Linked DNA regions of Homo sapiens: all the other regions are linked to region 3. The links come from fine-mapping of genetic effects on gene expression. A gene starts in region 3. Each other region holds a variant in brackets. All regions are shown on one strand. Distances are from middle to middle. Region 1 has its middle 1.4 kb from the start of COX6A2. Region 2 has its middle 6.9 kb from the start of ITGAD. Region 3 holds the start of ARMC5 (armadillo repeat containing 5).

Evidence for each region. PIP is the estimated chance that this variant, and not a neighbour inherited with it, causes the effect.
Region 1: its variant is the best candidate, but not a certain one, in a credible set for the expression of ARMC5 in whole blood (TOPMed, PIP 0.50).
Region 2: its variant is the best candidate, but not a certain one, in a credible set for the expression of ARMC5 in whole blood (TOPMed, PIP 0.50).

The regions. Positions count from the first base shown.
Region 1 is chr16:31,428,386-31,431,145 of GRCh38, reverse strand. No RefSeq gene overlaps it. Among named protein-coding and RNA genes, the nearest start is that of COX6A2, 1.4 kb to the right of the region's middle. The variant T/A (reference allele first, on the strand shown) is at 1,392.
Region 2 is chr16:31,385,096-31,387,855 of GRCh38, reverse strand. No RefSeq gene overlaps it. Among named protein-coding and RNA genes, the nearest start is that of ITGAD, 6.9 kb to the left of the region's middle. The variant C/T (reference allele first, on the strand shown) is at 1,438.
Region 3 is chr16:31,458,039-31,460,798 of GRCh38, reverse strand. It overlaps ARMC5 (armadillo repeat containing 5), which reads right to left and starts at 1,298. Exons shown (of 6, transcript NM_001105247.2): 1 at 800-1,298. The coding sequence starts at 1,274. RefSeq lists a silencer at 750-1,099 and enhancers at 1,290-1,629, 1,628-2,168.

The sequences.
Region 1 (2,760 bases), 30 kb after region 3:
AGCTAACCCATGTCCTGTATCACAGTTGTTTTTCCAGGACTATTCTAATTTCAAATACGCTGTCCCTAGGGCCCCCATAAACATTTATACTTAGTAGATCACATGTAATCGATCTTTGCTTTAGAAAATGTGGTCATGGTATGCAGCATCCCAGGAAGAGGGCACAAGAGAAACTGACCCTGAGTCATGCCTCCACCTCCTTCACCACCAACAGCTGAGATACTCTGAACAGAGGCTGAGATGCTGCCCTCCGGGGTTTATTTAGCACCTGGTGAGTTTGTTCTTCCCTCTGCCTAAAGTGGAGGAAAAATTAAACCTCTAGAAACTGAAAGTGTTGGCAGCAGCCAGGTTAAGAACTGTGTGAGTGAGAACTTACAGAAACAATGGTGAGTGCACAGCCTGGAAGAGACAGCTCTGCACACCCTCTAGAGAGGCAGGTAAGATGGTGACAAGCCCAGAAAAGCACAGACCACCTGAGCGGAGGTCTCTGGGTACCTGGGCAAGTGCACCTCGTGATGGTGACAGCAGCCCAGGACAGAAGTGGCCCTCCTCAGGGCGTTCTTGACATCCCAGCAAGAAAACCTCTCCACAGGAGCTCCCAAGCTGAGAACAAAGGGATGGGAATTCCCAGGGAATTGTTTGGCAGCAACCAGAAAAACTCTGAGGGGCCTTTTAGGGGAGAAAAGAAACCTAGAACCTTTTCTTCCTTTTTTCCTTCTTTTTTTTTTTCTTGAGAGAGTCTTACTCTGTCACCCAGGCTGAAGTGCAGTGGCACAATCTTGGCTCACTACAACCTCCACCTCCTGGGATCAAGCGATTCTCCTGCCTCAGCCTCCCGAGTAGCTGGGATTACAGGCACGGGCCACCACACCCAGCTAATTTTTGCATTTTTAGTAGAGATGGGGTTTCACCATGTTGGCCAGGCAGGACTCAAACTCTTGACCTCAAGTGATCCGCCCTCCTCATTCTCCCAAAAGTGCTGGGATTACAAGCGTGGGCCACTATGCCAGGCCTCTAGAACTTTGTCAAGTAAAAATACCTGTCTTCATGTCTGTTTTCTCCAGGAGCCATTATCTTATATACGTAGGGAGGGGGCTATGTGTAGAGGGAGATGCCAGGTATCTTTAACTGGAATAGGGCCCCATCTTCTCTGCAACAATGCCAAAGTCCAGCTGGGAAAAAAACTGTAGGAAGAATTCTATTATAGCTCAGTGAGAGCTCAGGAATAATTTTTGTAACACTGTATAACATTTGACTGCTCAAGGAGGTTATTTTTTTTAAAAATAGCAGCAGCTTAAAGTTGGATGGAACATACTGTTCAGTTTATTACCAATGAGAAACAGGTATAGAGCCCCTTCTTGAAAATATATCTTCCTCGTTTTTTTTATATA[T/A]TAAATTCAGATTATATGTCTATATAATTCATTCTTCTTTTGTATATTAAGTTCATATTAGTACATCAGCCCTTGATCAAAGCTAGAAGCTTCCTATTGGATTGTAATTCTGAAAAGGCATTGTTGTAGGGTTAACCAAAGTAACAAGGTTCAAGCATTCATTACATACATATTTTTAGAACACCTCCTTCATGCCAAGGTCCCTGCCCGTTGCTGAGGACAGAACAGGCAGATGTCATCCCTGCCTGGTCTTGTGGCTTTCTTGTGACCTGCTTTGATAGAGGGTTCACACCAGCCCTGTCTAGGCTTGCTTTCTCCAAGTAGTCATATTTTTCAGATTGAAATAATGCACTTTGCAGTAGACACCTGTCAGGCTTGTGGCTGCCTGGAACCTTTTGAATACTCATCCTAGACCTGGAGATTTTCCCTACAATTCCTGCCTCCCTAAGGCAGAATCCAGAGCTCAGTTTCCCATCCCCTCCTGCAGCTGGGGGACCTAGGGGTTGCCAGTTGGTGCAATCACATAATTCTTTCAGAAAAGAGCGACCCAGGATACAGGTTTCATGAAGAATCTGTTTTCAAGAGGGGATGAGGGTGGAAAATTCTGGTTTTCCAGGGCAGCCTTAATGAAGCTTTTGGCATCCAGGGTCCAGCAGTGTGAGCTGTGGGGGTGTCACTGCAGCTGGCCAACGGAATGACTTGTTTATGACTGTGCAGACTGTAGGCATCTCTGGCTATATCAGACATAGTAAGCTACCTAAGATTCTCAATTACTTATCTTCTAAAACTAGTAAGAGTGAGTTCTGTTCTTTGCAAAGAACTGTGACTAATACATATACTGAACTACTGTTACCTGCCAAAATCCAGGTTGACACATTCCTACCTTACATAAACTTCATAAAAATGATGTAAGGGCCGTGTAGTGGCTCATGCCTGTAATCCCAGCACTGTGGGAGGCTGAGGCGGGAGGATCACGTGAGCTCAAGAGTTCCACACCAGCCTGGACAATATAGTGAGATCCCCGTCTCCAGTATTTAAAAAATCTTTTAAGGTACGAATTATTATACATTTTACAGCTGAAAACACTGAGACTCAAAAAGACACTTAATTCATTCTACAAATATTTATTAAAGCCCAACTGTGTGCCAGCCACCAGGCATAGAATAGGGAACAAAATAGTTTCCCTGCAACTATATAAAAAGAATGGCATATTGTACTTAAATGCCTCCTTGCCAAAATAAGAGGCACAGGACAACAGCTGTCTGGAGATGACCTCAAGCCAGTCAGGCCCCATTTTAAATATAGAAACCCCTAAGAATAGCCGCCAGTGCTCCAGACTCAACAGGTGATTGGCCCAGAGAGGGGAGGT
Region 2 (2,760 bases), 73 kb after region 3:
GTGTATACCCAAGAGAATTGAAAGCATGGTCTTGAAGAGATATTTGTGCGCCCATATTCATCATTCATGAGAGGCAAAAAAAGCAACCCAAATGCCCATTGATGGGCAAATGGATAAACAAAACGTGGTATATACACACAATGGAATATTATTCAGCCTTCAAAAGGAGAGGAATTCTGACACATGCTACCACATGGGTGAACCTTGAGGACATTATGCTAAGCAAAATATGCCAGTCGCAAAAAGACAAATGCTGTATGAGTCTATTTCTATGACATGCCAAAGCAGTCAAATTCATAGAGACAGAAAGAATTGTGGTTGCCAGGAGTTAGGGAAAGGGGAGAATTGGGAGTTGTTTAATGGGTATAGGGTTTCAGTTTTACAAGATAGAAAGAGCTCTTGAGATTGGCTATACTTAAAAATGGTTAAGATGGTAAATTTTATGTTATGTATATTTTATCACAATTAATTTTTTTAAGTTCCAAGTAACTATCTTTCTCTTTGACATTAATGTGAAAAGCAATCTCCTACTTGCCTATTCCTCCATACAACACTGAAAAGATGAATAGGCAATGGCCATGATTTGATCATGTTCACCATTTTCCCTCCTTTCTTAAGCACTGAGTCAAGGGTGAGAGGCATCCCGTGAACTACCGTGTGCTCTGTGAATACTGCCCTGCAAGCATCAGCCTCTTTAGCCTGAGTGCACCATAAGTAGTTAGCCCATTCTACTGATGCAGGGCAGGCAAGCTCCAAAATTGGGGCTTAGCCCGGGAGGGTTCTTAACTTTGCTCAGGAAAGAACTGAAGAGCGAGCCTGTGGTGGAAGAAAGCAGGTTTATTGAAGCAGCAGTGGCAGCAAGGTAGCTGTTCCTTGCAGAGCAGGACAACCCATAGGCAGTGAGCCCACAGTAGCAGCCAGTGGGCTGCTGGCTAACTGTACTTATACCGACTTTTAATTACATGCAAATTAAGGGGTGGGTTATTCAGAACTATCTGGAAAAGGTGTGGGGAGTTTCCAGAACCATATGAGGTAACTTGCTGACCGTTGCTATGGTGTGTTTCCATGGCATTTGTAAACTGTCATGGCACCGGTGGGAGTGTCTTTATGCTAATAAGTGGCGAGGGTAATGAGAGTTTGCTTTCCTGGCCATCTGCTGGTTTGGGCTGTTTTTTTAGTGCATCCCATCTTGACCAGATCATGCTCTGATTAGCTGGGTTGTGACCAGAAAACAGGTCCTGCTGATCTCCTACCTCACTATCTCTCCCACCACTCATAGGATTAACATTAATTACAAATGAACAACAAAACCTCCTTTTCTGTCACTAGAGGTTTCAGCAGCTGAAAAGCTCCCACATACATGTGTTGCACAAAGATGAAAGCTGATTCAGACTTTGTATGGCAGTGACTTATTCCAAGTATGAGGTGACATGCTTG[C/T]TCTCCCACACAAGCGTTAGTCACTGCTATTCTGCTGTATACCTCTGACATACACAATGTCCAAGCTGTTCCTTCACAAAGGAATCTTGCTCACAGCATAGTCTTCAAGCATAGTATTTGCCAGACACTGTAGGTAGCCTATCCAACAGCCACCAGCGCTGCCACCTTCCTGGCTGGTGGAGCTACCCTCCTTTTTTTTTCTCTTTTTTTTTTTTTTTTTGTTGAGACAGAGTTCTACTCTGTCCCCCAGGCTGGAGTGCAGTGGCATGACCTCAGCTCACTGTAACTTCCACCTCTCAGGTTCAAGCGATTCTCCTGCCTCAGCCTCCCAAGTAGCTGGGATTACAGGCACCTGCCACCATGCCCAGCTAATTTTTGTATTTTCGGTAGAGACAGAGTTTTGCCATGTTGGTCAGGCTGGTCTCAATCTCCTGACCTCAGGTGACCTACCCACCTCTGCCTCCCAAAGTGCTGAGATTATAGGCATGAGTCACTGCACCTGGCTGGAGCTACCTCTTTTTATTAAGCCTGTGAAAAGCACATGCTCACCTTCTCAGCACTGCATGCAACCAAGGGGATGGAATTTGACCCAATCCTAGTCAGTGGGAAAGAACTAAACCGCCCCCGCAAGGACGATCAATTGGAAGATCAGAAAGAATCTGTCAATGCTGAGACTCTGCATTAAACACTAACCTGCACCTGAACCTCTTGCAGAGTAAAGGTCTTCTGTCTGCTCTTACATGCTTTTGTTTTTTTCTATTATTTGCAGCCAAAAGCAACCTTTCAATACAGGTATGAACTCTACTGCCATTTCTACAAGCTTCTTGGAAATTATGTGACTTGTACCTACTTTTGCTACTTTAAAAAGCACCTTTGATTTATGTCACTGTGGTTTTGCTGTCTCCTCTGTATTCGGTGACAACACTAATCACTTTTGAATAGGAAAGCTACATGTAGCAGTTGTTCTAAGAAATCTCTATTGCTTTACCTGAGGCAGGCAGATCATGAGGTCAGGGGTTCGAGACCAGCCTGACCAACATGGTGAAACCCCCGTCTATACTAAAAATACAAAAATTAGCTGGGCGTGGTGGTGCGCGCCTGTAATCCCAGCTACTCAAGAGGCTGAGGCAGGAGAATCACTTGAACCCAGGAGGCAAAGGTTGCAGTGAGCCAAGATGATGCCACTGCACTCCAGCCTGGGCGACAGAGCAAGACTCCATCTCAATAAATAAATAAATAAGAAAATAACACAAAAGCTTTCAGAGGTTCATGCGACTGTTTGATAAAGTTTCAGAATGGGCAGCACACTAGGGACAAATACAT
Region 3 (2,760 bases):
TTATTTTTATTTATTTTTTCCTGCTTCCTAAGCGACTACTGATTTGTTTGGTTTTCTAAGATACGAGGTCTTGTTACGTTGCCCAGGCTGGAATGCAGTGGCTATTCACAGGCAGTCATTGTTCACTGCAGCCTCAACCTCCTAGGCTCAAGGGATCCTCCCGCCTCAGCCTCCCAAATAGCTGGAACTACAGGCGCGTACCACTGCACCCAGCTTATGCTAGTTTTTAATAACTTGAAATACGTATCATGCTTAGAATATTTGCATATTCGTGCCATATTTGTACTTCGTTTTCTCCCCACTCTGATTTTTTTAGGTAGCTATTATTGCCCCATTTTACAAGGAATCCTAGCCTCGGAGGGGTTAGGTGACTTTTGCAGATCTCCCTTTCTGAACCACTACACCTTCCAGCTCATCAGTGGGGCTTCAGAACCTTGCACAGGGCCGGACACATAGTTGGGCACTGAATGTCTGCTATGAACATCATAACTGGACGGTAAGAATCATCTGAAAAAATCACCAAATAACTCTTTGGCCTCCGCTAGTCCAGCTTCGAAAGAAGTCCTCAACAACCAATTCCTAGATAATGGCTACAATTATCTGGTCTGGGAGGGCTCTCTCTCATCTATAGAGAGTGCAGTGACGTCACGGGGCACAACAGATTGAGAAACAGGAGCGATGCGCCATCACAAAGCACGTTATTCCGGGATAGGACACAAAGAACTCCAGACTGCCCGGGTCTAGAGAGCAAGGGAGTTGCAAACCTAATCTTTCTAGGAAACGGGGGCGGAGCACTTACCCAAAGGGAGTATGCCTCCGAGTCTGCGCACTTCGGTCCGGCACGCCCCTTCCGTACAGCAATCGGCTAGGATGCTGAGCGCCAAGTCCAGCGTCTTGCGCAGGCGCACTGGCGGCGTAGGACTAGACGACGACACAGCGGAGGGGGCGGGGCCCGACGCGGGGGCGGGGCTAGAAGCTCCCGACGCGGCCGACGAGGGGGCGGAGCCGGGGCCTGCCTGGGACGGGGCGGAACCCGCTGCAGCCGCTCGCCGTAGCAGCGCGAGTAGGGGGCGGAGCCCGCCGCGTGCCCGGAAGCGCTCGATTCCCCCCGCTGCCTTGATGTGGCGCGTGCGGAGGGCTAGGAGCGCGCGGCTCAGGGGTGTCTCGTTGGTCGCTGGGTCCTTTTCCCCACCCAGAGCCTCCCCGGCCGCCGCCGCGAGCTGCGCGAGGCAGAACGAGAGCGAGTCCGTGAGGGTTGGCTTCGCAGCCGCCATCTTGGCTCGGGCCTCAGACTCCGCCCCGCTTCTCGCCGCTGATCCCAGGGAGCGGAACTGGAAGACAGGGAAATCGTCGGGCACCGCCTCGCTGACGCTGTTTAGCGCCACCGCAGTGATGCAAGTCGGAAGTTGTAGTTCTCGACCCCGGAAGTCTGTCCTTGCACACGAGGCGCGGCAGTACCTTAATCGCAGCGCATCCTGGGACGTGCGGGCGGTGCATGAGGGAGATGTGGTCCGCGTCGAGCTTCTCACGCCTACCTCGGGAAGCGCTGGAAACTCTTCCAGGGCCCTCCAGGTGGGCCAGGGCCTCCGAACAGCCCAGAAGTCCGACCACGGAGCCTTCGTGCCGTGCCCCGCCCCCGGCGTGCACTCGGCGGGGACCGCCTTTTCTCCTCTAGGCTCGCTTCGCTGCCCCCCAGCGGTGGTGCGGCCCGGCCTTGGGACGGACTCCGAGAACCCCGAGCCGGGCCGAAAGTGCGGGGTCCTGACCGCGCCGCAGACGGGGAGCCCTCGCTCGGTCAGAGGAAGAAGAGGGTTAAACCTACCGAGAACGTTCGCTGCCGCTTCCTAGAGTGACGGGCTTGTGGAATTTTCCGTTTCCGGAGCTGGACCCCGGTGTCCCGAGTGTCCTCCGCTCTGGACGTGCTCGTGAGCTCAGGAGCTGGCATCTAGGAAACGGGGAGTTCTTCACTCGCAGCGCAGTCGGCCGCGCCAGAAGAGGCGAGGGAGAATCCGGACGGGGCGGGGCGGCGGGGGAGCGGGACATTCGCGTCCCGGGGAGCCCCCAGGTCACCCCTGGATTGCGAGGTGGCTCCGCCTGAGCAGCCCTTCCTGGTGTGGTCGGGGCAGCTGCCCGCCCGGAAAATGGTCAGGCTCTAGCCCTGGGGAGGAAGAAGCCTTTGCCAAGAGCAACCGTCTACAAGCCCCAAAACCTGCGAGTGCCGGAAATGTGGACTGACCACAGCCTGCCTCCCCGGCTTCATTCACCACCAAGGCAGCCCCTCTGGTGACAAGCCTTACCGTTGTCCGGGTTATGGCAGAAGCTTCCGATGTGGCTCTGATCTGGTTAAGCACCACTGGGTACACACCGGTGAAAAGCCGTACTCCTGCCCCGAGTGTGACCATCGCTTCGGCCCTATGCCTGTGCCTAGTGTGGTAAGACTTTCAGCGTCAGCTCCAACCTGATCCAGCACCAGCGCGCTCACACCGCTAAAAGCCTTACCGCTGAGGGGACTGCGGCAAGAGTCTCAGCCTTGGCTCCACCCTGTTGCAGCACCTGCGCTCCACATGGGTGAGAAGGCCTCTAAGTGCCTTGTTTGTAGTAAGAGTTTTGTGCACAGTTGGAATCTGCTGCGGCACCAGCACAGTCACAAAGTCCGGAAACCTGATGCTTGGTGGTGAGTGTGGCCAGACCTTCGGCCACAGCTCCCACCTGCCCATCCACTAGGCGGCCCACAGCAGCACCCCTGCGTCTGCCTGCAGT